Linked DNA regions of Homo sapiens. The protein of the gene in region 5 purifies or fractionates together with the protein of the main gene of each other region. This does not show direct contact. Each region holds a gene or a part of one and is shown on either strand. Other genes may lie near its edges.

Region 1 (4,036 bases), on a different chromosome or scaffold from region 5:
CCCTCATTGCCCAAAACATCATTATGAAGTGCAAGACTTTATGTTATCTCATTTACGATTCACAACAACTCAGTGAGATACATATAATCATCCCAATTTTAGGAATGAGGAAACTAAACAGCACAAAGCTTAATAATAACAAGAGACATTCATTGAGAGCTTACTATTTGCAGATACTATTCTAAGAACTATATACACAAATTATTATTTCAGTTAATCCTTCACTATCTCTGAAAGGCAGGATATATAGAGTCACAATAGGTCTGGGTTTGCCTGTAACACACTGCTGATGTTTGTTCTCTTGATGTAATTATTAATAATGATCTCAAAAGTGTCCTGACTTGGGTGACATTGTTTAATCATCTAGTTAAATAACTTGCCAGACGTCACAGAGCAAATGGCAAAGCCAGGATTTCAACCCTGTCTGTCTGATTCTAAAGCCTAGCTCTTTATAGGACACATAATGATGCTATTAGTGGTCAGCTCTTCAGGTACTGATTCATATAAATGTAACTTTTGTCTTTGCACAAGAAAGCAATTAATAGGAAAAAGAATTTTTGAAATGAAAAAGTCCTTAATCTGCTTCAACACCCTTATCTTATAGAGAAAACCAGAACTCAAAGAAATTAAATGACTTATCCAAAGTCGAACAGTTTCTTATATTATAGCACCCATCCACTTACATGACGTAATACTGTGATTTCCAAAATATGTTTTCCATTTACATATGTCTTTGCTTCCCCAACTGGGATAATACTCACTGTCCCACCAAAATTTTTGATAGTACTGTTAAAATAAGAAGCACATAGTTAACAATTATAGAACACACTAAAAAGTAAGAAAAAGGCAATATGGGATAATTCTGCTTGGGCTATTCCTTTGGTGTTAAGATTCATACCAATATGTAACAATAATTTAAAATTATTTTATTTTCCTCCAACTAGTTTTTTTTTTTTTTTTTTTTTGAGACGGAGTCTTGCTCTGTCGCCCAGGCTGGAGTGTAGTGATACAATCTCAGCTCACTGCAAGCTCCACCTCCTGGGTTCAAGCAATTCTCCTGCCTCAGCTGCCTGAGTAGCTAGGATTACAGGCACCCACCACCATGCCCTGCCCAGCTAATGTTTGCATTTTAGTAGAGATGGGGTTTTGCCATGTTCGCCAGGCTGGTCTCTAATTCCTGACCTCAAGTGATCCACCTGCCTCGGCCTCCCAAAATGCTGGGATTACAGGCATGAGCCACTGCATCGAGCCTCCAATTAGATTTTGAAGTTTGGTGAAAAAAGCCTGGCCTCTAGCAATCCGATCCACCTGTGGTGGGAACATTCTTCATTGGGTGTATTTTTATTATAACTTCTTTGAAAACAAAAACCTTCCCCCAAAAATTCAAAAAAAAAAAAAAAAAAAAAAAAACTAGCAAAAAACATTAACATACTGCCAGTGATTTCTTATGAATAAAACAGTTTTAAGTGTTTTTTTAATTTTCTAAGCTTCTGGTTTTACATATGAGCTTTAATAACAGAAAGAACAAATATTTCTCCCCTTTTGAAAAGTAGGGTACTACAGAGGAAGGAAAAACATGGAGATCAAAGTGTACCCCTTAAGACATCTAATTTACTGGATGATAAGGTGATACTGTGGAAAATCAGCTATAAGTGCTACATATTTGAGTCTTTTTATTCAGAGAATAGGAAAGAAACTCCAAAGTCCAATTCATCTTTGGATTAACGGGATAGAAAGAAAAACTGCAACAAAAGCTGAGTCCTAACCAAAGATCTTTTTAGCTGTGGATTAGGCTCCAAGATCTGTGATTAGAGAATAATAGTTTAATTAAAGCATCTAGAGAAAAGTACATGGAAACAATAGTTCACCCTTAGGCACTACATCCCTCCTACCAGTCTAGTGTCTTATCCAGGTGAAGGTTTATACAATGTGTACTTGTTCTGATCCCTTTCCTCTCCTAATTCTATCTACTCTGCTCTCAAAATTCCATGGCCTACCATTCTGGACGCCCCACAATCTGGCTTCAACCACCAACCTCCCTCATCTGCCACTATTTTCCCATAAGAACCCCATTTCACACTTAATCAACCATATGAATACTCTGAATTTGCCTTAATGTCAGCTTTCCTCCTTTCCTTGAGTCATTCCTTCCAGATAGGACATCCTCTCCCTTCTTGCAACCATTCTTGAAGGCCCAATTTAGAGTCCTCTAAGAAGCTGTTCTTTAGGGTTTAAGTTAGAAGTCAACTCTTCCTTCTCTTCACTTCTAAGCAGTAAGTATGCAGTACTCATAACACTTAATATGCATTAATAGATACTGAAGTTCTTTTTTTCTCTTTCACATGACCAGCCTCAGCCATGAAGTTCTTTTATTCATTAAGCCTCCAAGAGCCAGTTATGTGTCAGCAATGAAGACAGACATGAAATCAGCTTTCATAAAGTTCATGGTCTAGTGAACAAGATAAACTGAGGAAGGTACGAAAAATGGAAGTAGAGAGTTAGAGGCAAGCAAGAGGCTTCCAAGTTCCTTACTGGACTCTTAACTCTTTGGGAGCATGTTCTGTATCTTTGCCACAGATGTTAATAATACTGTATTTATTTGTTAAAGAAAATAATTAATTAATAAAAGAGCAAAAGAACCTAAAGAACAAAAGGATATGCCCTAACAGATATAAAGATTCATGGCCAGGTGCAGTGGCTCACGTCTGTAATCCCAGTACTTTGGGAGGCCAAGGTGGGTGGATCACCTGAGGTCAGGAGTTCAAGACGAGCCTGGCCAACATGATGAAATCGTCTCTACTAAAAATACAAAAAACTAGCTGGGCATGGTGGCTGCTACTCAGGAGGCTGAGGCACGAGAATCGCTTGAACCCAGAAGGTGGAGGTTACGGTGAGCCAAGATCACACTACTGCACTCCAGCCTGGGTGATAGAGTGAGACTCCATCTCCAAAAAAAAAAAAAAAAAAAAAGATATAAAGATTCATTACAGGCCGGTCGTGGTAGCTCACACCTGTAATCCCAGCACTTTGGGAGGTCAAGGTGGGCGGATCACCTGAGGTGGGAGTTTGAGACCAGCCTGGCCAACATGGTGAAACCCCATCTCTACTAAAAATACAACAATTAGCCAGGCGTGGTAACAGACATCTGCAATCCCAGCTACTCAGGAGGCTGAAGCAGGAGAATTGCTCGACTCCAGGAGGTTGCAGTGAGCTGAGATGGTGCCACTACACTCCAGCCTGGGCAACAGAGCAAAACTCTGAAATCAAAAAATAAATAAATAAAGATTCATTACAAAGCTCAAGTAATTACGACCATGGGGTATTAGTAGGAAGAAACAGATTCTGATATTTTTAGAAATTTTTTGTAGGAGCACTACAGATTCCAAAAGAAGCAATAAACTATTTAATATTTGGTACTGGGAGAAATGGCTATTCATGTGGAAAATAAATGAATTTAGATCCCTAATTCACACCAAATAAAAAATTCCAGACATTCAATAACTTAAATGTGAAAGCAAAACTTCAAAACATCTAGAAGAAAATTTAGAACATCTCTATGACCTCAATGTACAACAGTCTTTTTTTTTTTTTTTTTTTTTGAGTTAGAGTCTCACTCTATTGCCTAGGGTGGAGTATAGCAGAGTCATCTTGGCTCACTGTAGCTTCCACCTCCCAGGTTCAAGTGATTCTTATGCCTCAGCCTCCCAAGTAGCTGAGACTATAGGTGCCCACCACCATGCCGGGCTAATTTTTGTATTTTCAGTAGAGATGAGGTTTCACCATGTTGGCCAGGCTGATGTTGAACTCCTGGTCTCAAGTAATCTGCCGCCTCAGCCTCCCAAACTGTTAGGATTATAGGCGTGAGCCACCGCACCTGGCCAGAACACTCTATCTCTCTCTCTCTCTTTTTTTTTTTTTTTTTTTTTTTTTGAGACATAGTCTCGCTCTGTCACTCAGGCTGAAGTACAGTGGCATGATGATCTCGGCACACTGCAACATCCACCTCCTAGGTTCAAGCGATTCTCATGCCTCAGCC
Region 2 (4,036 bases), on a different chromosome or scaffold from region 5:
GTACATAATATACAGCTTCTCACTGCTAGACAATAGGTTTCTAAGAGTCAGGGTCATGTTCAAATAAAACTTTTGGATCTGGGAAGAGTGAGCTCATTAAGTATTTAATCAGTGGAAAACATATGGGGAGAAGAAATTTTTAAAAAAGAAATGTAGGCCGGGCACAGTGGCTCACGCCTATAATCCCAGCACCTTGGGAAGCCGAGGCAGGCGGATCGCTTGAGGTCAGGAATTTGAGGCCAGCCTGGACAACATGGTAAAACCTCATCTCTACTAAAAATACAGAAATTAGCCAGGCATGGTGATGCGCACCTGTAATCCCAGCTACTCAAGAGGCTGAGGCAGGAGAATCACTTGAACCCGGGAGGTGGAGGTTGCAGTAAGCGGAGATCACACCACTGTACTCCAGCCCAGGTGACAGCGAGACTCCGTCTCAAAAAAAAAAAAAAAAAAAAAAGAGAGAAATGTTAAATAGCTGATGTTTTTTATTTAGTGAGTATAATTACGCAAGCTGTTTGTACCTTTTCATGTTCCTCAATTGTTCATTTTTTCAAACTGAGGACAGCTTCAAATATTTGGTATCAGCATGTTAATGATATCTGCTAAAACTGTATTTTTGCTGAAAAAATGTTTAATTAAATTTTGAACTAAACATCAAGACAGTAAAATAAATAGAACTGTGGGTGTTTTAATAAGGATTTACTTACGGATAGTATTTTTATCTTGTTTGATGTTTCTTTAAACCTCTGTAAATCCATGCTATCTCTGTGTCCTTTAATAGAAAAAAAGATGTTGCAATGAGAAATTTTTATTTTTCTTCACCGAAATAATGGCACTGCTTAAAGTTTATAAAAACAATAGGTTTATGCTGTTTTTCAAGTACACTTGATGGCTCTGCAGTCTCCTTTAGCTCTTTTGATAAATAAAATTGAAAATTGCCAAGAAGCTGGTGAAGGTTACAGTTTTTTTTGTTTTTTGTTTTTTTAAATTTGAGAACAAGTCTCGTTCTGTTGCCCAGGCTGGAGTGCAGTGGTGTGACCTTGGCTCACTTCAACCTCTGCCTCCCGGGTTCAAGCAATTCTCCTGCCTCAGCCTCCTGAGTAGCTGGGACTACAGGCACGTGCCACCATGCCTGACTAATTTTTGTATTTTTAGTAGAGACAGGGTTTCACCATGTTAGCCAGGCTGGTCTTGAACTCCTGAACTCAAGATCTGCCTGTCTTGGCCTCCCAAAGTGCTGGGATTACAGGCCTGAGCCACCGCACCTGGCCAAGATTATAGTTAAGTTTACAGTAACGTTAAAAGCCAAAGTCCTTATAAAACAAACCAACATGTGATATGAATAAATAGCTCGAAATTTAAAAGAAAAAAGGGGACCAAGCATTTTTACTATTAATAAAAAAAAAAGCATTACATATATACGGATAATCACTCAAAAAGGAATGATTTATTCTTATGCCTATAACTTAAACAAAAACAGAACAAAAATATTTTGGCAATAACACTTTAATGACCTTAATGAAAACTGTTCCACACATAGAGATTGTTCAGACAACATGTTAATAAGCCCATGTATAATCTCCACATTAAGACCAGTCTAGCAAGTTATTCAGGCACTGAACATGCTGATACTTACTGCTAGGCTATATGGAATTCACTCTAGATATACAGATATGTAACTTTTCCTATATAATATACATGTAGAGAAAATATATATGATATATACATACACCCCACTGGTAATACATTAACAAATAGGCTAAAATGCATTTTTAAAAATAAATTGGAAATTAGCCAGGTGTGGTGGCGTGTGCCTGTAATCTCAGCTACTCAGGAGGCTGAGGCAGGAGAATCACTTGAATCTGGGAGGCAGAGGTTGCAGCGAGCCGAGATTGTGCCACTGCACTCCCGCCTGGGCGACAGAGGGAGACTCCGTCTTTTAAAAAAAAAAAAAAAAGGGGGAATATATTTAACGTAGGAAAAGTTATATCTATGTATCTAGAGTGAATCCCATATAGCCTAGAAGTAATATCAACATGTTTAGTGCCTAGATAACTTCCTAGGCTGGCCTTAATGTGGCAATTTTCCATGGGCTTATTAACATACTGTCTGAATAATCTCTATGCATGAAAGTTTTCACTAAGGTCTTTAATGTGTTACTGCCAAAATAAACATTTTTTTTTGTTCTTATCTTATTTAAGCTATCATAGGTATAAGAATAAGTCATTCCTTTTTGAAATGTTCTCTGTGAATATATAAATAGGTACACCATAAGTACTAATTTTCCCAGTAGATTCCTAGATTTCCATTGTTGTTCTGATATAATTATTAATAGTGCACCCTTTCACTTTTAAAGTGTCTTGGTTTGGGTAAAAAAATTATATGGTCATCTATTTATAGGGCACTGTTCTTTTCCAGTTGATTCTAACCTCCCCTATGAGGTTCTCCAAGTACTTAAGAATCACTTAGGTTTTCAACAAGAGTTGATGAAACCCAATTGAAGATATTCAAATTCAAAAGACAGAACCTAAAATTCCATCAAAGAGGTTATGTGCCAATATAACTCTTATAGCCTAATTCAGTCTATTTCCCCTACTTCTGATTTTTTTTTTTTTTTCATTTCATTTCTAGAGACAGGGTCTCATTCTGTCACACAGGCTATGGTGCAGTTGTGTGATCACAGCCCACTGCAGCTTTCAGCTTCTGGGTGCAAGCAGTTCGCCTGCCTCAGCCTCCTGAGTAGCTGGGACTTCAGGCACATGCCACTGCGCCTGGCTACTTCCAAAAATTTTTTGTAGAGATGGGGTCTTGCTATGTTGCTCAGGCTGGTCCTCAACTCCTGGGCTCAAGCAATCCTCCCCACTCAGCCTCCCAAAGTACCAGAATCACAGGTGTCTGATTCTTTTTAAAAATTTTATAATTATACTCTATGAAAAGATAATGACTTGTAACAGTACATATTTCTATTATTTCTAAGGTGAAAAGTAAATAATATTGATATACAAATACGAATTTGCCAAACTTACCTACAAATGCTCCAAATTCTGTATTATCTCCTTCTGTAGCTTTAGAGCAAACAGTTTCTTGATCTTTGGTTCCAGTTTCCAAGTGGCTTTTGCAACTTGGCTGAGATGGTGTACTAACAAAAAATTTGGTTGGTGGGGATGACAGATGTGGTATGCTAGTAGATGAACTGCCTAATTTTTGATTTTTATTAAATATTTTTAAGAGTTCTACCCCATGTAGTCTCTGTCGCAGTTCTGGAGGGGAAACAGCACTTGGGAATAAGGCACCAGAAGAGGAACCAGCCTCTGGAAAATTAAATTCTTTTCTCTGGGGTACTGCAGGTAAGTCTTGACCAAATATATTACACTGGGGATCTTTGTCATCTTTCATTAAAATATTACAATGAAAAGGATTATTACTTTCAAGATCACCTTGAGGAAGAGAGGAGCTAAGTGTATTTACAACACCATGCTTTTTCCATACAGAAGGTCTTACAGGACCATCATCAATAAGGTTTTGAGCCAAGTGTTTGGAAATGCTCAGTTCTCGTGTGATTTCATTATGAACTTTGCTAGCTTCCGACGCTTTCTGGGCAGTGAGTGTTTTTAATGTATCTACCGTCAGGGCTGAAAGATCTTGCAAATGGCCAATTTGAGAATCTAATGATTGTAATGATCTTTTTATGTAGTTGACACGATCTCCAACTTCTTTAATCTGAATGCACATCTGTTCCACTCTGTAGGAGAGAAATAAGCTTTTTTTACAAATGTGAAAAAATAATGTAGAATTTTATTTTGTAGCCTCAAATAATAATGATAAAAAGAGAAAAATTTCACATGCATTTAAACAAGATATAAAATAAGGTACAGTTATTTAATTATACAAGGCCTACCTTATGTTTAAGAAGGATCCAGTGCTAATCTTATATTAAAATGCAAGATTTCAAAAAACGTTTTTGTTCCACAGGCTACTTATTCCAATTACCCCACATCAAAGTAACACAAAATAATGTATATACAGCTACATATAT
Region 3 (3,888 bases), on a different chromosome or scaffold from region 5:
ATGAAGAGAACAGAGAGCTGGCCAGTGAGCAGAGGGCAGAGGCAAGCGAGGAGCCGGGCAGGAGCCTGTGCTCCGCAGGGCACTTCCCACGGGACCCTCAGCCCCACTTCTGCTTCTGGGGCACTCCTCCATCAGCAGCTGAGCCAGACAACCGAGTCTTCATGCCTGGTGCCCCAGCTCAGCCTGCTTCTCCCACCCGCTAATGGCCACGCCAGGGCAGAGAAAAAGCCCCCCTGCCCCGCAGCCACCTCGTGGGCCTCCTGACCATCGCTGCAGAGGGGAGTACTCTGGGGCCCCCGCCTCCTAGCGTACCTGGGTTGGCTACCTCCTCTGTTCAGGCCTTTTCCCCCAGCCACCGTCCCCTCCCCTCTGAAGCCTGGTTTGTCCGTCCCGCGTCTTTTGTGATGCCCCGTGGTCCCCTCCCTTCCCCGGCCTTGCCCTGACTGGCTCTGGCTGCCTGCCCGAGGCCCTCTCTGGCAGCCCCTCTGCAGGGATGGCTGCTCTCAGGGCTTGGCCTCCGGCCCGGACAAGAGGAAGCTCCCTGTGCTCCCACGCTGCTTCCACACTGTTTCTCTTCCTTCCCTAAATACCGTAACTCAAGTTCAGATCACTTTAATCTGCCATGTCCTCATGTCACCTGTCAACTGCCAGGTCACTCCCTGATTCACAGAGGACCCTTGGCTCACTGGCTTCCTTCCCATCACCACTCACGGTGACTTCGCCCTGTGAGGCTGACTGATGGTCCTCTCAGCCCCTCAACCCTGCCACCCCCATGACCTCCTCTCCCCGACCCCTGCCACCACTCCTGCAGCCACACTGTCACCACAACTGCTCCGGCTCCCGAATCTCCTGTAGGCACCACCCCTCCTGCAGCTGACTTCACCCGCTCTCCACTCCTGCACCCCCTGAGCTGCATCGGGGCACTGACCCGCTGCCCCTCCTGCTGTGCTTGCTGGGGTCTCCATGGCCGGGTGGCACCAGCTGTCCGCTGACCTTAGGTCTACACCCACAGTGTCGCTGGGAAACACATGCCATGCTAACTGGCCTCACTTTAACTTCACAATCACAATTTTCCAGCCCACAAACTGCCTGGAAACTGATCACACTTTTTAATATGATGTTCCTTTCCCCCACTGTCCAAAATGACTATTTCAAAAGACCCCTTTTTTTATACACTTTATCCTGACCCTCTCTCTCCCAGATTTTCTCTACTTCACGAAGCAAACAGAAGCCATGGGATCTACATTCATCTTCCACATGGGAGGAACCATCACTGCATCCTTCTGCCTGATTCTGCAATGGTTTTCCTGAACACTTAAGACCCAAACACCCAACCCTGGCCACAAACAATCCTTGCCTCTTGGCCTCCTTCCACACCACTGCTTTAGCTCCTGCCCTCCTGCCATGCTTGTCTTTGTTCTGCTCTTCAACATACCAAACATGTTTCTGCCTCTGGGCCTTTGCATGCGCCATCCTGGGCCTGAAAGGCATGTCCACTTGTGCTGTGCCCACCCCCATATTCAGCTTACGGTTTGTTTTTTGAGACAGAGTCTTGCTCTGTCACCCAGGCCGGAGTACAGTGGCATGATCTTGGCTCACTGCAACCTCCAACTCCTGGGTTCAAACCATTCTTGTGCCTCAGCCTCCTGAGTAGCTGGGATTACAGGTGGGTACCACCACGCCCGGCTAATTTTTTGGTATTTTTAGTAGAGACAGGGTTTCGCCAAGTTGTCCAGGCTAGTCTTGAACTCCTGGCCTCAAGTGATGCACCCTCCTTGGCCTCCCAAAATATTGGGATTACAAGCGTGAGCCACTGCGCCCAACCTTCAGCTTACAATTGTTAACTACTCAGAAGGCCTTTGACCAGTTAAATCCACAATGGCTCCTCCAGTCATTACTACGTTAGCAAAACATGTATCGTTCCCTGGCATCTCACTGAGTTCTATATTCAGTGCCTGTCTCTTCACTGCCACAGCATAAGCTCCCCGAGACCACAGGCTTCGCAGGCACAGCTTTTCAGTGTCCGGCCCGGTAGCCCAAGTCCACGCCCCTCCTTACCTCCAAACACAGGTTTGCTCTCAGTTGTGCTGCTCACGTTGAAGGCAAACGGTGTGCTCTGGCCGGTGGTGCCCAGGGCGTTCTGACCTAAGCCCCCTGCGAAGGGGGTGGAGGTGGCTGTGCTCCCACTCTGTCCTGCTCCAAAGCTGAAAGCTCCGGTGGTGGTGCTGGAGCCTGGGGTGGCCACATTGATCCCAAAGCTCCCACTGCCAGCGGGGGCTGCCGAACCCCCAAACGTGAAGGGTGATGGTGTTGTGCTGCCAAACACCGAGCTGCTGCTCCCGCTGCTGGCGGTCTGGGTGGTGGCTCCAAAGCCGGAGCTGGTGGCTGCACCGAAGAAGACAGCAGTGGAGCCGCCAAAGGCGGGCTGTGAGCTGGCGGGAGCGCCGAAGGCCGAAGCCGTGGCTTTCAACCCAAACGCCGAGTGCGTGGCACCGCCAAAGATAGGATGGATGGGCGTAGGCACGTACGCAGGCACGACCTTGATCATGGACGGAGGTGCAGGTGTGGGTGCAGCAGCCGGGGCTGCAGAGTTTCCAAAAGTGAAAGAGCTGCCAAAGCTGGGGGCAAGGGCCGGCTTGGCGGCCCCCGGTGGCTGCCCCTCAGCGGCCCCAAATGCGGGCTGGGGGTTGGCTCCCGGATATGATGGGAGCGGGGACTTGGCGCTTGAGCCAAAGGGAATGTTGAACGTGGGGGTGCTCGTGTTACTGAACGTCAGAGTGGGCTGGCTGCTGGTGGCCGGGGCGGAGGTGGCGAGGGTGCTGCCAAAACCACTAAAGTCGGCAGCGCTGCTGCTGGTGGCCGTTGGCACGGCAGTGTGCAGGGACTGGCTGAAGGTGGTGACTGTGGTGGTTGTGGGCAAGGCAGGAGGTTTGCCAAACTGGAATATGGAGCCCATGGCCGGGGTGAAGCTGGCAGCAGAGGCCTGGGGCGCCCCGAAGAGGAAAGGCTGTGAGGCGGCAGTGGCGGTGCTGGTCGTGGTACTCACACTGCTGCTGCTCACACTGTTTATGCCAAAGCCAAACGCAGGCTTCGAAGCAGAGTCTGTGGATGGACTGGCAGAGGTGATGGGAGCCACAGCAGAGGTGGCGCTGGCCAGGCCAGTGAAGAGCGGGGCAGTTGTGGTGGGAGCAGTGGCGGGAGTAGTTGTCTGCTTGAAGAAGGGAGCAGGCAAGGGCACAGATGCAGGTGGCCCCATGCTGCTAAAGACAGGCTGGAAGGTCGGGGCTGTGGTGCTGGTGGTCGTGGGGAGGGAGGAGCTGGAGGGCGCTGTGGCTGTGACTGAAGGGCCAGGCGGTGTGGGGCCTTCCTTCTCACTCTTGGGTGGAGCCGTGAAAATGGGCTTGAACATGGGAGGTGCTGAAGATGCAGCAGGGGCGGCAGGGCTGGAAGGTGAGGTGTTCTGTGTTCCAAACAGGAAGCTTTGCTTGGGGGCGGGGGACGGGGCAGATGTGGCTTGGGGTTTGGTAGCCGTCTCTGCCTGAAGGGTTGGAGGTGCCTTGGTGTCAGTGGCTGGTACCATGGATGGAGCAGGGATCAGCCCCAGCAAAGTGGTCGGGGGTTTGGAGTCAAAGGAGGGGCTGGGGAGCAGCCCTGGCGGCCCTGACTGTGATAAACCCAGCGGGGGTAGGAGGCTGGGTGTCTTTGGAGGTGAGAGGGCCTCAGTGGTTGCTGCTCCAGCAGATTCTGGAAGAAGAATAGAAAATGTGAAATTGGAATAAACACTTCAAAGATGATGGTATTCAGTATTTCAGTGTCCTCCCCACGCCTACCACAGAGCCTGGGATCCAAGAGTCAGTCAATAAACTCAGCTAAGTCTACACTACAGGC
Region 4 (4,036 bases), on a different chromosome or scaffold from region 5:
TGAGTCTACTGGGGCCTGAGGGAATTGTCGTGTGATGACATCACATTTATTGGGCATCTGCTTTGTCCCTGGCACTAGGCTCAAACTCAGGACAGCCAGCCCACATCCAGTGTTTCCTGCAGGCCTGGCACCACTCCCAATGTCAACTTGTCTCATCCTCACAACAGTCTTTGAGGTAGCATCAGTCATTATCCTGTGCACAGAGGAGTCCACGGCCACCATGGCAAAATCACTTGCACGAGGTCACACACCGGAATTGGAACCTGGTTGTCTGAGTAGACATTGTCCCTGAACTACACTGGGTGTCTGGGTCCACTCCGTTTTGGAGATGAGACCTCAGGTCCTTTGGAGAGTCTCTCCCCTTCAGACCATGTGACCCCTTAGTTACCCCAGAGTGGGGTAGCGGGTAGAGGGACCACACGTGGCCTGCCCTGGCTGTTGTGATGTGTCAGGGGTAGGCCTGGGACCCCAGCAGCCAATGAGAGTAAGCTCCGTGGTCCCCTGTGGGGGGAAAAGGGTGGCCTCCAATGAAGCCAACCCTGGAGATGGGCACAGGGCAGAGTGGGCACGAGAGACTGACTCTTACTGCCATTGAGTGACCAAACCCGGCCGTGCCTAATGTGAGACGCCTCTGGACTTTTCTCCAGGACGTGAGCCAATCAGTTCTGTCTTCCATCCATGCTTCCATGCTTTCCCCTGCAATGCTGTGGGGTGGGGACTCTGAGCGGCTTCCTCATTTTACAGAGGAGGACACTGAGATCCGGAGAGGGGAAGTGCCTGCCGCACGGTGGGGTTTCAACACAGGACCCTGCAGCCCCGCAGCCCCGAGCCCTGCCCGAGCGGCGCCTCCTACCTCATCCAGGAGCTCCACGGAGGCCCGCAGGATCTGCCTCCACTTGTGCACCTCCACGCTGTGGAATTGCTTCTGCAGCGCCAGGATCTCGGCCCACTCTGTGGCCGTCTGGGGGAACTTGCTGTGGGGATGCCAGGCCTGAGCAGGGCCTTGGCCTCCCCCGATGTGCCCAAGCCCCCCCATTTCCCCAGGCTACCCACTCACCCCTTGGCCAGGGCCAGGCTGTGCCAGGACTCAAAGGTGTGGGCTGTCCTTTCCAGGGACCAGAGGCGGTAGAAGAGCAGGACGTTGAGGGCGATGAGGATGATAAGGCTGGGGACAGGGGTCAGAGGTCAGGATTCCTGGGGTCTAGATGCTCTGAACACCCCCAAACAACTACATCTTGTAGGGACACCTCTATCCCCCATTGCAGAGGAGGAGAATTAGGCTCAGAGAGGATGAGAGACATGCCTAGGGTTGCACAGTCCATAGCAGGGAAGTCAGTGTTCAAACCCAGGTCTGTCTGATGCCCATACCCTTGACTGCCATGCCAGGCCACCTCCCTGGGGGAGCTGGGGGGCATGGGGTGGGGAGAAGAGGCTGCAGCAGGGGTGGGGTGCAGGGAGGGGAGGGCAGGGGGAGGACTCGGGACCCTACCTCACACAGATCCTGCAGCAGCAGCAGTGAGGGGAGACAGAGAGATGAGCGCCGCCTGGCCTGCCCCCGACACCCCCAGCCCTCCTCACCCGGGGCAGCTCTTGGCTGAGAGCACCACGCCCCCTCACTGGATGAGAGCTGAGAGCTGAGGCTCAGAGGCTGAGCATGTAGCTGGCCTGACCCTCACCTCGCAGGGTCTGCTCAACCCCGGGATCCTGCTTCTGTTTCCTCCCAGCGTCCTGCCCGCCAACTCCTGCAGGCTTCTGGGCAGGAGTGTGGGTTCTCCCTGCCCAAGCCCTTAGCCTACGCGGTCTCCACTCTCTCAGGACGCCCATCCTGACTGCCCCCTCTGGCCTGGGAGGAAGCCGCCGCTGGCCTCCCAGGGCTTCCCCACTCCCAGCCCCAACCCCTCTGCCCATACCTCCCCCATCCCAGCCCGGATCACTCTGGTCTGGTGTGAGGTCTATCTTTTCCTCAAGGTCACTGCGGTGTCCTCAGCATCGCCCAGCTTAGGAGTGGGCACAGAGAACATAATGTCCATAAATGACCTCACTTGTTAGGCACACCTCTCCCTGTGCACCTAATTCCAGAATCTTTGTGTGCCTGCTCCTCCAGAAAGCCCCCCTTGATCCTTGGGTGAGGTCAGGCCCCTCTGATCTCCCATAGCCCCCCCCGGCTCTGCTGTTCTAGCAGGGAAGGCTTCTCCATGACAAACCGGCACATCCCAAACATTGCCTTGTCTAATCCTTGCTGTGAGCAAACCCACGCTCCCACTTAAGCAGAGAGCTCAAAGAGGCCACACACTTGCCCAAGGTCACACAGCCAGGAGGCAGGTTCAGGCCTGTGTGGCCACTGCTCCTGTCTCTTACTCACACAATGCTGATGAGAACCAGGGCACTGGGGATGCCTGCCCCGGGGCCCTGGTCCACAGATGGTTCGGAGAAGCGGGAGCTGAGGGAGCCTGCAGGAGAGCAGCTTGGAGTCAGATGGCCCAGTCCAGGACCCCCGATCCTCCGCCTACCCCAACCCGGCCCCAACGGAACGTACCCGAGGTGTGAATGCCGGCCCGGGCACAGGGGTCAGGATCTGGGTGCTGGGGCCCGTCCCCGTGAGCCCGCCAGCTCAGGGGCCGCTTCCGCCGCCGCAGGCCGGATAGCAAGCCCCGGGCATCCTTCCCGCCTTCCTCCAGAGACAGCTTCTCAGCCTTGGCGAGCTCTCGCTCTGCGTAAAAGAGAGGGGGCTCTGGATGTCCATACCTGGCCAGGCCATCCCCCAACCCACGCCCCAGCCGGCCTTCTGTCCCTACCCAGATGGTGGAAATAGTCTTCAATGCCGCTCCACGAGTTCTTCTCAATGAGCGACTTCACCAGGCTCCACGGCTGCTTTCGGTAGCGGATCTCAGAAGACACTCTGGGGTTGGGAGATCAGGGGAAGGAGGTAAGGGTCTGACTCCAGCCCTGGCTGCCCCGTCCCACAAGCTGAGTTTTTTCCTTCCCCTAATTCAGAGAGGGCCCCTTGTCACTCACAGACAAAACAGATGGGTTCCCTACCCCCCATGGCTTCCCTGGATACCCCATACACCACCCGCCCAGCCCAAATGCCAGCCAACTCAGCCCTCGGTCCTTCTCCACCCATGCCCACTACCTGGGCAACGCTCCCGGCGGCCTGAGCCCTGTCTACTCACAGACTGACGTCTTAACCAGACCATGCCCCTGAACCTCTTCCATTCGGCTGCTGCACCCCAGCTCCACATGGGCTCAGCTCAACATAGACAGCTGAGTCCCAAACTGACCTCCTGGTCTTTCCCCAAACCCATTCCTCCCTGCCGCCCCCATCTGGGTCAAGGGCAGCTCCGAAGTTGTAGTGATTTGGGCCAAATGCCTCGGGATATTCCTTGAGCTCTCTTTCCCTCACCGCCACATCCAATCTCTCAGCAAATCCTGTCAGCTAAACCTGCAAAATCTCTCCAGAATCTAAACTCTTCCCCCTCCATTTCCTCACCCTGATTCAGCCTCCGTCCCCTCCAGCCTGGATGTCCCAGCAGCCTCCTCCCTGGCCTCCCTGCTCCTGTACCTGTCTTTGCAGTCTGTTCCCACCAGAACAGAGGGAGCCAGAAGGAGCCTGGGACCACCTGAGTCAGGTCAGCGCCCTCCTGGCTCAGAGCCCTGGCCTGGTTGCACCTCACTCCAGGTAAAGTCAAGTCTTCACCATGAGCCACATCTGGTTCACCTTTTTTTTTTTTTTTTTTTTTTTGAGACAGGGTCTTGCTCTGTCGCCCAGGCTGAAGTGCAACGGTGTGATCATGGCTCACTGAAATCTCCACCATGTCTGGCTAATTTTTTAACTTGTTTTTTGTTTGTTTGTTTGTTTGTTTGAGACAGAGTTTCACTCTGTCACCCAGGCTGAAGTGCAGTGGCCCGATCTCGGCTCACTGCAACCTCCACCTCCTAGGTTCAAGTGATTCTTGTGCCTTAGCCTCCCAAGTAGTAGGGATTACAGACGTGCATCACTACCCCCGACTAATTTTTGTATTTTTAGTAGAGATGG
Region 5 (4,036 bases):
GAGGGGGCTCTGGCACCACCGCTTACGTAGAAGAGAGAAGGCACCAGAGCGTGATGGAACCCATAGACTGGCAGGGCTGCCGCCCCAGGAGGCCCAGGAGGGTGGCGGCAGGCCTCAGGTGCAGGAGGTCTAAACGGTGGTGCTGACAGAGACGGGGAAAACAGTGACGACTTCTATTCGGTCCCACTCCAAGGACTTGACCAACACCCACACGGAGAAATCCCCCGGGCACTGAATAAGCTGACAGCTCATTTGTTGAAAGCCAATTTGTCAAAAGCTGGTTCCTCGCAGCATTTCAAGGAATATTCCATTTGTCTCTGCCCCAGGTCCCTGTTAAGAAGAGAGTCGGTGGACAACATGGACTAGGCCACTGCTCACAGAGAGGGGGAGTGGGTCGGCAGGATGGTCACCCCGAAAATAGATTCCTCATTACTGTCTTTCCATTTACATGAATGATCTAGCTGTGAGAACATTCAAGATTTTAACTGTCCTCAGGAATATGAAGTCAATCTTCATCAATGTATTGGTAAAGATACATGAAGATATTCTTCAGTGCATTCTTGAAGAGTCTCTTCAGATGTCAGTAAACAATATTTTCATAAGGATATTCTCTCAGTCTCCCCTTCTCTCTGGCCCCCATCTCCTGGCCCTCTGGCAGCCGCGCTCCCTTCTCTTCCTTGGTCAAGGACCCCCCTCTCTCCACCTCCTACAGTCACAGAAGCAAATGGACAACTCTGGAGAATGCTCTTATGAACACAAAACGATGACCAGTCAACCCAGACACCCTCAAGACAGACCGAAGGTGTTAAGACCACCCTCTCCAACACAAAGTGTTCTAAACTTTATTGTTTTTTTCAAAATAGTGTTGTTGTTTTTTTTTTTTGAGACGGATCTCCTTCTATTTGCCCAGGCTGGAGTGCAGTGGCACGATCTTGGCTTGCTGCAACCTCCGCCTCCCGGGTTCAAGTGATTTTCCTGCCTCGGCCTCCTGAGTAGCTGGGACTACAGGTATGCGCCATCATGCCGGGCTAATTTTTTGTATTTTTAGTAGAGACAGGGTTTCACCATGTTGGCCAGGCTGGTCTCCAACTCCTGACCTCAGGTGACCCGCCTGCCTCGGCCTCCCAAAGTGCTGGGATTACAGGTGTGAGCCATTGGGCCCAGCCAGAAAGAGTATATTCTTGGTCATTTCTGAGAATTTGCTTTTGGCAAATTGAGCTAGAGCCTAATCATGGCCCACAACTTGGAGGAAAAGTCTGAGACGGAGAAACAGCTGTAGGAGGGGTCAATAGCCCAGGTGCAATCGGTGCATGTGGCCAGGATGGATGAGCTCACTCTGAGCAAATGTGCCAAAGCAAGGGGCCCTGGGGAGCTGGGGGAAGAGCCAACAAAACAGAAGCGAAAGCAGGAGGAAATTCGCCAGGACGGCTCACACAGGAACCCAGAGGATGTAGGGATACAGTGGAAAGGTTGAACATACATGTAACTGGGGCCTTAGAAGGGGAAAAATGAGAGACTAGGGCAGAGTCACTATTTGAAAATATAATGGCTGAAAACGTCCAAAACTGACAAAAGACATCAAGCCATAAACCCAAGTAGCAATGCGAAGCCCAAGCAGGATGAATGCAAAGAAAATCACACCAAGGGGAGAGTCAGCGGCACAAAAAAGAAGAGAGAAAGAAAATCACGCCAAACATCATCATAGCAAAACCACTAAACAACAAAGAAAAACAAAAGATCTTAAAAGGAGCCTGAGGAAAACAAAACTGTGATCCGAGGAGCAACAAGAAGACTGGCAGCTGCCTTTTCAACAGAAACCATGGAAGTCAGAAGGGAATGATTTGTTCAAAATGCTTATTATTTCCAAAAATTAAGTGCCAACTTAGAATTCTATGTCCAGCAAAAAATATCCTTCAGGGCCGGGTGTGGTGGCTCACGCCTGTAATCCCAGCACTTTGGGAGGCCGAGGCAGGCAGATCACGAGGTCAGGAGTTCAAGACCAGCCTGGCCAACATGGTGAAACCCCGTCTCTACTAAAAATACAAAAACTAGCCGGGCGTGGTGGCACATGCCTGTAATCCCAGCTACTGAGGAGGCTGAGGCAGGGGAATCGCTTGAACCTGGGAGGCAGAGGTTGCAGCGAGCCGAGATCTCACCATTGCACTCCAACCTGGGTGACAGGGTGAGGCTCTGTCTCACAAAAAAAAAAAAAAGAATTCCTTCAGAAATAAAAAGGAATGATGGCATGTGTGAGGCAATAAGGTGACAGTGACTGCATATTTAACATTGTGGACTTGTTTTAAAACATTTTTGGTATGGTATTTAGGCTATGTTAACAAAATGATCCATATTTCAGGTTCACACTGAAATATTTACAGATGAACTGATATAATGTCTGTGCTTTGCTTCAACGCAATAGGGATGAGAGGAACCAGTTCAGAGAGCAGATCAGACCTTAGGTCAGACCTCCTCAGAGATCCCAAGATGCAGGATGCTGTGACATGGAGGAGAAGTCGGGGAAAAAATGGAAGTTAACACGACCCCAGCCTGCAACAAAGCCCTAAGCAGATACCTTGAGGAAAGTCAGCCCGAGGCTGGATCCCTGGGGCTGAGAGGTCACAGAGCAACACTGAAGCCTCTAGGAACCATAGCCTGTTATCTCCAAGCCTCGTCTGAAAGCGAAACATACCAGAACAGTCTTGGGACAGAGGAGCTAGGGTCTGGATGCCCCCAAGGACCTCGTGTCCAGGAGGGAAAGAAAAACATGGAGACCTGGCATATTCACTTCCGGGCGTTTTCAATATGACAGGAGGCTATAAGAAAATTTCACGACTGCCCACTTGTGGATACAGCCAGAAATACAAAGCAAGAGTGAAAGTTTTGCCTACTCGGCACCTGAGTAGCTTCTTTTTTATTCAATTTTTATTGAGGTAAATTTCATGTAACATAAAATGAATTATTTTAAGGTGAACAATTCAGCGGCATTTAGCACATGTGGTGTTGTGCAACCACCATGGCTATTAATAGTTCCAAGACATTGGCCGGCTGCAGTCATGCCTGTAATCCCAGCACTTTGGGAGGCCGAGGCGGGCGGATCACGAGGTCAGGAGATCGAGACCATCCTGGCCAACACGGTGAAACCCCGTCTCTACTAAAATATGCAAAAATTAGCTGGGCGTGGTGGTGCATGCCTGTAATCTCAGCTACTCAGGAGGCTGAGACAGGAGAATCACTTGAATCCGGGACGCAGAGGTTGCAGTGAGCTGAGATCAAGCCACTGCACTCCCTCCAGCCTGGGCAGCAGAGCAAGACACCACCTCAAAAAAAAAAAAAAGCCATTAACAACTTTCTTTCTTTCTTTCTTTCTTTCTTTCTTTCTTTCTCTTTTTCTTTCTCTCTCTCTCTCTCTCTCTCTCTCTCTCTCTCTCTCTCTCCCTCTCTCTCTCTCTCTCTCTCTCTCTCTCCTCTCTCTCTCTCTCCTCTCTCTCTCTCTCTCTTTCTGTTTTTTTTTTTGAGACAAGTTCTCACTCTGTCCTCTATCACCCAGGCTGGAGCACAGTGGCACAATCATAGTTCACTGCAACATAAAACTCTCGGGCTCAAGCGATCCTCCTGTCTCAGCCTCCCATGTAGCAGGGACTACAGGCATGTGCCACCAAGTCCGGTTAACACTTTTAAAATTTTTTGCAGAGATATGGTCTCACTTTGTTACCCAAGCTGGTCTCAGACTCCTGGGCTGAAGCAATCCTCCTGCCTCGACCTCCCAAAGCACTGGGATTACAGCCATAAGCCACCACATCTGGCCCCATTTTTCTTTACGATCTTTCAAGGACTTAGTTTGCACATAGGAAGCAGAAAGGAATTGTAAATTCAGTTCCATCAGCATCTACTTGGGGCTTACACACAAGTATTAATTAATTCTCACAACAGTTCCAACAATAGTGGGATCATTTTTACCTCCATGTTACAGATGTGGAAACTGAGGATTGCAAACTTGAAGCACCTCGTCCAAGGTCATTCAGTAAATACCTTGCAG
Region 6 (4,036 bases), on a different chromosome or scaffold from region 5:
TATAAAAGCAAGCTGTGCCCCGACCACCTTGGGCACATGTTGTCAGGACTGGTGAGTCCTTATCCTTGGCAAAGTAAACTTTCTAAATTGACTGAGACATATCTCCGATACTTTTTGGTTCACATGACTCAACAGAAACAGAAGACCAGGGAGCCGTGTAGCTTTGTGCAGTGCCATAGCTCCTCTGAGCCTCAGTTTCCCCATTCCTGACATGACCTCTCAGTGTCAGAGGCGCTGGAACCAGAGCGACTCCATTTTGAGTGAGGGCTGGGAAATGAGGCTGGGGCCTGCTGGGCTGCATCCCCAGAAAGAGGCATTCCGAGCCTCTAGATGTTTAGTTGTAAAGTAGAGGTTCCTCTTCAAAGACTTTCCTACCGATCTAATTAGGAATAAATAGTAACTTCTCTTAGAAGCAAAATTTATTCAAAGACCTGTGCTAACATTATTAAATATCTGCTAGCAGTAATAAAGAAAGCAATGTACTACTTTAGGTTCTTAGCTCCCACAATTTAGCCTAAATATTTGCCCTGGCATGCTTATACTGGTCCAAGCGGGCATTAGGTCATAGCCTGTTCCTCTTCCTTATTTGAAGGTGTTTTTACCTTTCTCAGCATTCCACAAATTACTTCCTTCCTTTGTTCTCCTCTGCCTTTGCCTCTTTTAAAAAGTTGTACGTTGCTAGCCAATCGGGACAGATACAGAATGTGAGGTCCCATCCCAGTCAATGGAAACCAGAGACGGCAATAGGGTGGACGCGTCAGGTTATAAATGACCCTGTTTCCTTTGTTGGGTGAACTCTTGTGGCAAAGCTGATGGCAAGTGTGTCCTTTCTGCAGGAAGTAAAAATGTCCTTGCTGAGTAAATTAAATTTATGTTCAACTGCTGTTTCTTTACGGCACCGGGGAACAAGCATTTCAAACAATTTGGTGGCAATCCGTACAGGGCTACATTCTCCTGCGGGGGCGGTCTCTGTTCCTCTCTCATGAGGGAGCACGCTCCTCTGCCTCACTGCAGTGGCCTCAGGGATGAGAAATTGAGACCCACCTGGTGTGACGAATAAACCCGGACTCTCAGCAATGCAGAAAAAAAAAAAAAAAAGAAACTGGCCAGCAACCTAAGGTAAAGGATGCTCACATACCAGGGCTGCAACTCTGTGCACAGACCAAGGAAGGAGAAGCCACAGAAGCTGGTAAAGTACTTCCTTGGTGGTGAAATTCTGGAGGGCTGAATGTGTGTATGTGTGAATGATCACAGACAACCCTGCTTGCAGTGTGGTTTGTGTGGACGGTGACAAGTCCTCCTGCTGGACAGTGAGTGGGTCCCCTCCATGGTTCCGGTTCTGTAGTGACCTCATATGGCTTAGGGCAGGTCCTGCTGTGGGATTTATACCAGCACGCCTACACTAAGAGGGGCCTAATTCTCCCTTGGGGGGGCGACCAGAGAGGACAACACAAGTGGGAAGTATGCAAGGGACCTTTGGGGGGAAAGGAGGAAACAGGTCAACCTCCCAGGGCAGGCAAGGCAAGACACCCCTGGTTTGAGGGGTTAAGTCTTCCATTAATTTCAGGGGGTTGAACCTCACACAAACCTCCAGTAGTTAAAATATATATATATATATATATATATATATATATATATATATATATATTCAAAACTCCCTTTTCCCCTCTTCACAGGGAAAGAAAAAGGCTAAGCTTCACTCCCGCTGGTTGGTCCCCCAGGGGAAGGGGAAGGAGAGGGGGGAAAACAGCAGCATAGGTGGCTGGCAGAGACAAAGGAAAGACCAGCAGACAGGAAAAAGAACTAGGAGAGGAAGTCAGAAAAAAAGAAAGCAAAAACAGCAAGCACAGCGGCGCCAGGAAGAGAGCAGAGGAGGTGAGAGGGCATAATTCTTGCAATTTGTGGCAGGCATCTGCCAAGCCTCTGGGCTGCCGGGGCCGGACTGCAGCCATGCAAATCCCACCCAGCCCGAGAAACTAAGTGTAGGAAGAAAGGGGAAAAAAAGTAAAAAGGGGAATGGTGGGGGTGGATAGAGAAACTGACGGCAGTGCATGCCCAGGGGCTGGTGCCATTGCCCGGCCCTGCTGCTGCAGGAGCGGGAGAACTCAGGAGGGAAGAAGGAAGCAGGGGATGAAGAGAGTGAAGAGAGAGAAGAGACAGAAAGAGATTAAAATACAGAGGGAAAGAATAAGAGAGAAACTGGAAGAGACAGAAATCAAAGGAAGACATAGAGGGTGAAACTGAGAAAAAGAAATAGCGTAAAAGGCAGGCAGAAAGTTAAGACATGTTGAAGATTGTGAAAGTTGTAAGAAAAGCTATAAAAGGGAATTTATGCAAGAAATAGTGTATAATTTAAAAGTAATTAGGCCTCCTGAATGTAAAATTATTTAAAAAAAAACAGTTTATATACAAGGTATGTCAGAAAAATAAAATAATACTTTTAATAACAGGATTATAAGGAGACATAATATGGATTTTTACCTACATTAAAAGGTTAAAAAATATATTTTGTTTTAAAGGTTTAAGCAAGTTTTAAAATGTTAATTGTAAAGGAAATTCTGTGTGTAAACATATTGGCTAAAGCTAAAGGGGTATCATGCAGTTTTTCTGTGAACTGGATGTTAAAAGCACAATAGATTTTTCTTAAAGCACTAACCCGCTCTTTAACAAAAATTATAAAAGCTTAAAAAGAGTCTATAAAAATCTTACCCTATAGTCAGACATTAAAATTGAATAAATAATGTCTACAAGATTTTATTAAGTTTGGCCGGGCACGGTGGCTCACGCCTGTAATCCCAGCACTTTGGAAGGCTGAGGCGGGCGGATCACGAGGTCAGGAGATCGAGACTATCCTGGCTAACACGGTGAAACCCCATCTCCACTAAAAAATACAAAAAATTAGCTGGGCATGGTGGCGGGCGCCTGTAGTCCCAGCTACTCAGGAGGCTGAGGCAGGAGAATGGCGTGAACCCGGGAGGCGGAGCTTGCGGTGAGCTGAGATTGCGCCACTGCACTCCAGCCTGGGCGACAGAGCAAGACTCTGTCTCAAAAAAAAAAAAAAAAGATTTTATTAAGTTTAACATTAATAGCACATTAGTATAAAGGTAAAATTTAACTTATCTGGTATAAAATCATACAAAAAGCACTGTCAAATATAAAATGGTGTTTAGCTTTCTTAAGGCCTGAAGGTGGCCAGGTAAGTCACAAGGCCCCTCATGTCCAAGGCCACAGTGCACAGGGGCAGTGAAGGCCCCAAGAAGGCCAAGAGCTTAAGAGGAGGCAGGGCCGCAGTGTCCCCTGGGCGGCGCTGAGCAGGAATGGAGCGGGAGGCATCACCATGGGGCCTCAAGCCCCAGGATATGCAGCAAAAATGATATACTTAATTTATCTTCCAGTTTCCCTTCCCTCAGAACTAAAAGACTTTTAGTTCTAGGTACCACCCCTAGAATTTCCAGTACACCAGCACCAGCCTGAAAACCACGTCCTCATCAAAAGACAGAAAGAAAAAACTTGAGCCAGCCTGGGAAGAACCCTATTTTATGCTGTTAACCACTGAGACTGCCATCCGCAGAGCCAAGAAAAAAACGACCACACTCCAGTCAAGAAAACATCTTTCTCTCAGAATCATGGATGACTGTACTAGGACCAATCCTACTAAGTTAAAGTTAAAGAAAGCTTAATTTTCCTGTACCTTCATATTGCTTCCTTTCCTTATTGTTACTAGCGCCTTTGTTATTACTGTAACTAACTCACCTCAGACCACCGCCTTGAATGCTTGTTCTGTCATACCTTGCGGAAATGTAAAAGATCAACAACAGCTAGCCTTTTCACACAAATGCTTACGTCCCAGCCCTCTGATGGACATGGTTACCCCTAGCTCTCATTATCGTAATGACCTGCAGCCAAGATGCCAATGTTCTGCTCCTATAGCCTGCCAACTTTGTAGTAAACGGGACTATACACATTCAACTGCTCAGGAGCAAAGTTAAACTTCCAAGAAAAAGGTCTGTGCAGATCTAAAACCCCTCATCTATTT
Region 7 (4,036 bases), on a different chromosome or scaffold from region 5:
CAAAAAAAAAAAAAAATCACTAAAATAAAACGAGTCAGAAATATTCACATTAAAACCTAGTATATACTGAAATCTGGTATGGAAAAAAGTTATGTGCCATTATCTTAAAATCAAAATATAAAAGTAAATGAAAAAGATTATAAATCTAGAAAACACAAATGCACTGAAATGGCTAAGGCACTTCTATTCCCTAGTCTAACAAAACAACTTCTGGCTTTCACAATCTCTAATTTTTACCAAAACTAGTATATAAGAGAACTTGCTTCTATAAGAAATTAATTTTTCCCAGAAAAATAGTTCTAAAGACCAAGAATATCCGATATTAGGGCAGCCATAGCATTTATAATGACAGATCAAATGAACATAATTGGTTTGACAAAAATTATTCATTACCTCATATGTTGCAAGTCGATCTAAGTAGGTTAATAACTTCCGTCTACAACGGCAAAGTTCCTTTTGTTCCAGTGTCAACCTGTTTTGAATAACTATGTTAGGCCACTTATATTTACACAGAATTATTTCTCTAGGAGTTATAATGAAAATGATTAATATTCCGTTGAGCCCAAAACTCATGAAACAGTTCAGAAAAGCACAAGGGTAAGATAATAGTAAGTACATTTGATCTAAGTTGCTAAAATAATTTGGACTAATTATTACTAGTAAGGAACACACTGAAATGATTAGTTATTTTAAAGAAACTATCAAATGAACAGTAACAACTCATTTACTTGGAAAAGTTCACTAATTTCAGTAGTTCTTGTCTCTTCTTGAGCTCCTTTTCCTTTTTATTCTTGGCAGGCTCTTCATCAGGTGGTGAAAGCTCTTCATAGGAGATACTGTCAATGTCTATTTCACCAGGTAATGTAAATCTGCAAGTATAAAAGAACAAATATATTTTCATCATTTTTAAAAACTTCGTGTTGTGAAAAGCTTTCTCCTATTTTGACTGATTTCATTATTGATTTCCACAAAAACAGAAGAAAGTATTTGAAAAAAACTTTTGCCATTGTAAACAAAGTGATCATTCATTATATCCACAGATGGGCAAAAAGTCATCAGTAATTATTACAAATAGAAATCTAAAAATCAAGAAAATGAAAACTATTTAGGAAGAGATGTGGGGTTACATTCACTCAATGTAAAGCAGCCTATGCTGAAAATGTCCACAGAGTTTGCTATTTGAATCACTTCTACTTAAGGTCTTCAAATGGTAGTGTCAGTCTCATTTTAATTATTTACTTCTCAGATATACTCTCATATTTATATTTTTTAAAAAGTTCCAAATGCCTGATGAGCAATGACTTCAGGTAAGACAGTATTGATCAAAAGCAACTGCTTCAGTACAGAATAACTTAAATAAAGAAAAGTTTACCCAGTCCAATGTCTCAGTACAAAAGTTTTCACAAAGTCACCTTTACTTTGAATCCAATTCTTTCTGTAACCAACCTGCCATCATCTGCTCCTTTCCCTATTGCTAAAAGAGCCTCCAGGTCTGTGCCTTTTAATCCATACTGAAGCAGTTCTTTTGCAGCATCCACATTTTCAGGAACTCTTTCCAAACACTCATGGAGAACCCAGGATCGCTTCTTTATTTTACTCTGCATATAAAGGAAGAAACAGAGGAATTACAGAATCCATGACATCTTACAACACATTACAACTGCCTTCAGAATTGTAAAGCTATACCTGATGTATTACAGCTATTTAGGACCTTGGCCATAGGGAGCTGCTAGAGGAACTCAAGAGAAAAGCAGCCAGTTGCCTAATGGTGACTACAACTGGATGCGGGGAGTGTGAGTTGACCTGCTTGCTTTCTTCCTCTAATGAGCTACGCAGAAACAGAAAGCTCAGGACTCATTTTTGGAAATATAAAATGTTTCCTCCTAACTTTTATAAATGCCTTTGGTTTGCACCGTGGCTGTATAATAGAGCAGACAATAAGGCAGAAAGGCAAGATATATTCTGTCATAATTAATAAGCATGTTTAACTTTTAAACAAAACAAATGAGCCCATCAAATTTCTGTATTTATTTGACCATGAGATATATCCCAGGGTGTGAATAACTTGATCATAAAAAGTCATGATATGCTGTTTTTTGGAAAGATCAAAGTCCTATTCCTCCCTCCCAACTATTTCCTCCAACTCCATTCAAAATCTCTGACTTTATTAGTCTTGCTAGTGGTCTATCAATTTTGTTGATCTTTTCAAAAAACCAGCTCCTGGATTCATTGATTTTTTGAAGGTTTTTTTGTGCCTCTATCTCCTTCAGTTCTGCTCTGATCTTAGTTATTTCTTGCCTTCTGCTAGCTTTTGAATGTGTTTGCTCTTATTTCTCTAGTTCTGTAAATTGTGATGTTAGGGTGTCAATTTTAGATCTCTCCTGCTTTCTCTTGTGGGCACTTAGTGCTATAAATTTCCCTCTACACACTGCTTTAAATGTGTCCCAGAGATTCTGGTATGTTGTGTCTTTGTTATTGTGGAAGACAGTGTGGCGATTCCTCAAGGATCTAGAACTAGAAATACCATTTGACCCAGCAATCCCACTACTGGGCATATACCCAAAGGATTACAAATCTTCCTACTATAAAGACATATGCACACGTATGTTTATAGCGACACTACTCACAATAGCAAAGACTTGGAACCAACCCAAATGTCCATCAATGATAGACTGGATTAAGAAAATGTGGCATATATACACCATGGAATACTATGCAGCCATAAAAAAGGATGAGTTCACATCCTGTATAGGGACATAGATGAAGCTGGAAACCATCATTCTGAGCAAACTATCACAAGGACAGAAAACCAAACACCGCATGTTCTCACTCATAGGTGGGAATTGAACAATGAGAACACATGGACACAGGGTGGGGAACATCACACACCGGGGCCTGCTGGGGGGTGGGGGGAGGGGGGAGGGATAGCATTAGGAGATATGCCTAATGTAAATGACGAGTTAATGGGTGCAGCACACCACCATGGCACATGTATACATATGTAACAAACCTGCACGTTGTGCACATGTACCCTAGAACTTAAAGTAAAATAATAATTAAAAAATAAAAAATAAAAAAAAAATCCCTGACTTGCCCTCTTCCTAGAAAGAGCTATTATGGTTATAAATTTTAATTAAGATTTGACTCATTCCCTAGGATCCTTTATATATTGCCTCACATCAGTTCTTTCTTCAAATGTCTCTTAATTCACTTTCCCTTTTCCACAGCTGCGGCCTCCATACCAGTCTAAATCATCAACACAAAACATCTAGCACACTGTAGGAGTCCCCTGCCCCAAGCAAGGTTTCCTACCTTCCTTCCACTCCAATTCTCTCTACACCATCTTCCTCTGCTTCCACAGTCAGAAATCCACAACAGTAGATAAATGCCTAAGTCATCAGAAGCTTTCCACATCCTCCTGAACTCAAATCAATATATCTTTTCAATCATGTTTCCCAGTGTTCACTATTGTCAAATATCAGTGCCAGCAAACTGGTTGATGTACAGAGCTCATTTATCCATAAAATGTTTACTGGGCACCTACTGCACACCAGCCACTGAACTAGACATGGAAATATAGCAGTGAATAAAACAGATTTAGTCACTGGCCTCATAAATCATGCTCAGTGTCTTTTAATTTGTTCATACCATCTGTCCTGTTAAGAATGTCTTCCTCCCTTCTCATTCAAGAAGGCCTAATTTAAATCCTTCCAAATCCCTGCTCCAAACATCTTCACTATATAAAATCTTCCATCTCTACCAGATCTATAATAATCACTATCTTCACTGGGTTTCTAGAGTTGTATCTGAAATCTACTTATACGGCCAGTTATTTTTAATATGGTGAACCCCCGTCTCTACTAAAAATACAAAAATTAGCCAGGTGTGGTGTTGTGTGCCTGTAGTCCCAAGCTACTTGGGAGGCTGAGGCGGGAGAATCACTTGAACCAGGGAGGCAGAAGCTGCAGTGAGCCGAGATCGCACCATTGCAATCCAGCCTGGGCAAAAAAAAGCAAAACTCCATCTCAAAACAAAA

Evidence for each region.
Region 1: the proteins of TEX28 (region 5) and KIF14 purify together in Homo sapiens (co-immunoprecipitation; 3 studies listed by BioGRID and IntAct, with this or other methods). This does not show direct contact.
Region 2: the proteins of TEX28 (region 5) and TRPM7 purify together in Homo sapiens (affinity purification with mass spectrometry; 2 studies listed by BioGRID and IntAct, with this or other methods). This does not show direct contact.
Region 3: the proteins of TEX28 (region 5) and POM121 purify together in Homo sapiens (affinity purification with mass spectrometry; 2 studies listed by BioGRID and IntAct, with this or other methods). This does not show direct contact.
Region 4: the proteins of TEX28 (region 5) and GRAMD1A purify together in Homo sapiens (affinity purification with mass spectrometry; one large-scale study listed by BioGRID and IntAct). This does not show direct contact.
Region 6: the proteins of TEX28 (region 5) and THEM6 purify together in Homo sapiens (co-immunoprecipitation; 2 studies listed by BioGRID and IntAct, with this or other methods). This does not show direct contact.
Region 7: the proteins of TEX28 (region 5) and NBAS purify together in Homo sapiens (affinity purification with mass spectrometry; 2 studies listed by BioGRID and IntAct, with this or other methods). This does not show direct contact.

What each region holds. Positions count from the first base shown.
Region 1 is NC_000001.11:200,592,984-200,597,019, forward strand, and holds part of KIF14 (kinesin-like protein KIF14), read right to left. Parts: intron 787-4,036; coding exon 684-786; intron 1-683. UniProt on the Homo sapiens protein: Microtubule motor protein that binds to microtubules with high affinity through each tubulin heterodimer and has an ATPase activity. Plays a role in many processes like cell division, cytokinesis and also in cell proliferation and apoptosis.
Region 2 is NC_000015.10:50,588,885-50,592,920, forward strand, and holds part of TRPM7 (transient receptor potential cation channel subfamily M member 7), read right to left. Parts: intron 3,743-4,036; coding exon 3,027-3,742; intron 773-3,026; coding exon 708-772; intron 1-707. UniProt on the Homo sapiens protein: Bifunctional protein that combines an ion channel with an intrinsic kinase domain, enabling it to modulate cellular functions either by conducting ions through the pore or by phosphorylating downstream proteins via its kinase domain.
Region 3 is NC_000007.14:72,941,693-72,945,580, reverse strand, and holds part of POM121 (nuclear envelope pore membrane protein POM 121), read right to left. Parts: intron 3,745-3,888; coding exon 2,059-3,744; intron 1-2,058. UniProt on the Homo sapiens protein: Essential component of the nuclear pore complex (NPC). The repeat-containing domain may be involved in anchoring components of the pore complex to the pore membrane. When overexpressed in cells induces the formation of cytoplasmic annulate lamellae (AL).
Region 4 is NC_000019.10:35,020,365-35,024,400, reverse strand, and holds part of GRAMD1A (protein Aster-A), read right to left. Parts: intron 2,900-4,036; coding exon 2,796-2,899; intron 2,711-2,795; coding exon 2,537-2,710; intron 2,451-2,536; coding exon 2,363-2,450; intron 1,502-2,362; coding exon 1,490-1,501; intron 1,166-1,489; coding exon 1,058-1,165; intron 975-1,057; coding exon 854-974; intron 705-853; coding exon of another isoform or gene 660-704; exon of another isoform or gene 616-659; intron 1-615. UniProt on the Homo sapiens protein: Cholesterol transporter that mediates non-vesicular transport of cholesterol from the plasma membrane (PM) to the endoplasmic reticulum (ER).
Region 5 is NC_000023.11:154,274,339-154,278,374, forward strand, and holds part of TEX28 (testis-specific protein TEX28), read right to left. Parts: intron 1-4,036.
Region 6 is NC_000008.11:142,729,774-142,733,809, reverse strand, and holds part of THEM6 (protein THEM6), read right to left. Parts: intron 1-4,036.
Region 7 is NC_000002.12:15,466,936-15,470,971, forward strand, and holds part of NBAS (NBAS subunit of NRZ tethering complex), read right to left. Parts: intron 1,599-4,036; coding exon 1,447-1,598; intron 870-1,446; coding exon 729-869; intron 473-728; coding exon 394-472; intron 1-393. UniProt on the Homo sapiens protein: Involved in Golgi-to-endoplasmic reticulum (ER) retrograde transport; the function is proposed to depend on its association in the NRZ complex which is believed to play a role in SNARE assembly at the ER. Required for normal embryonic development.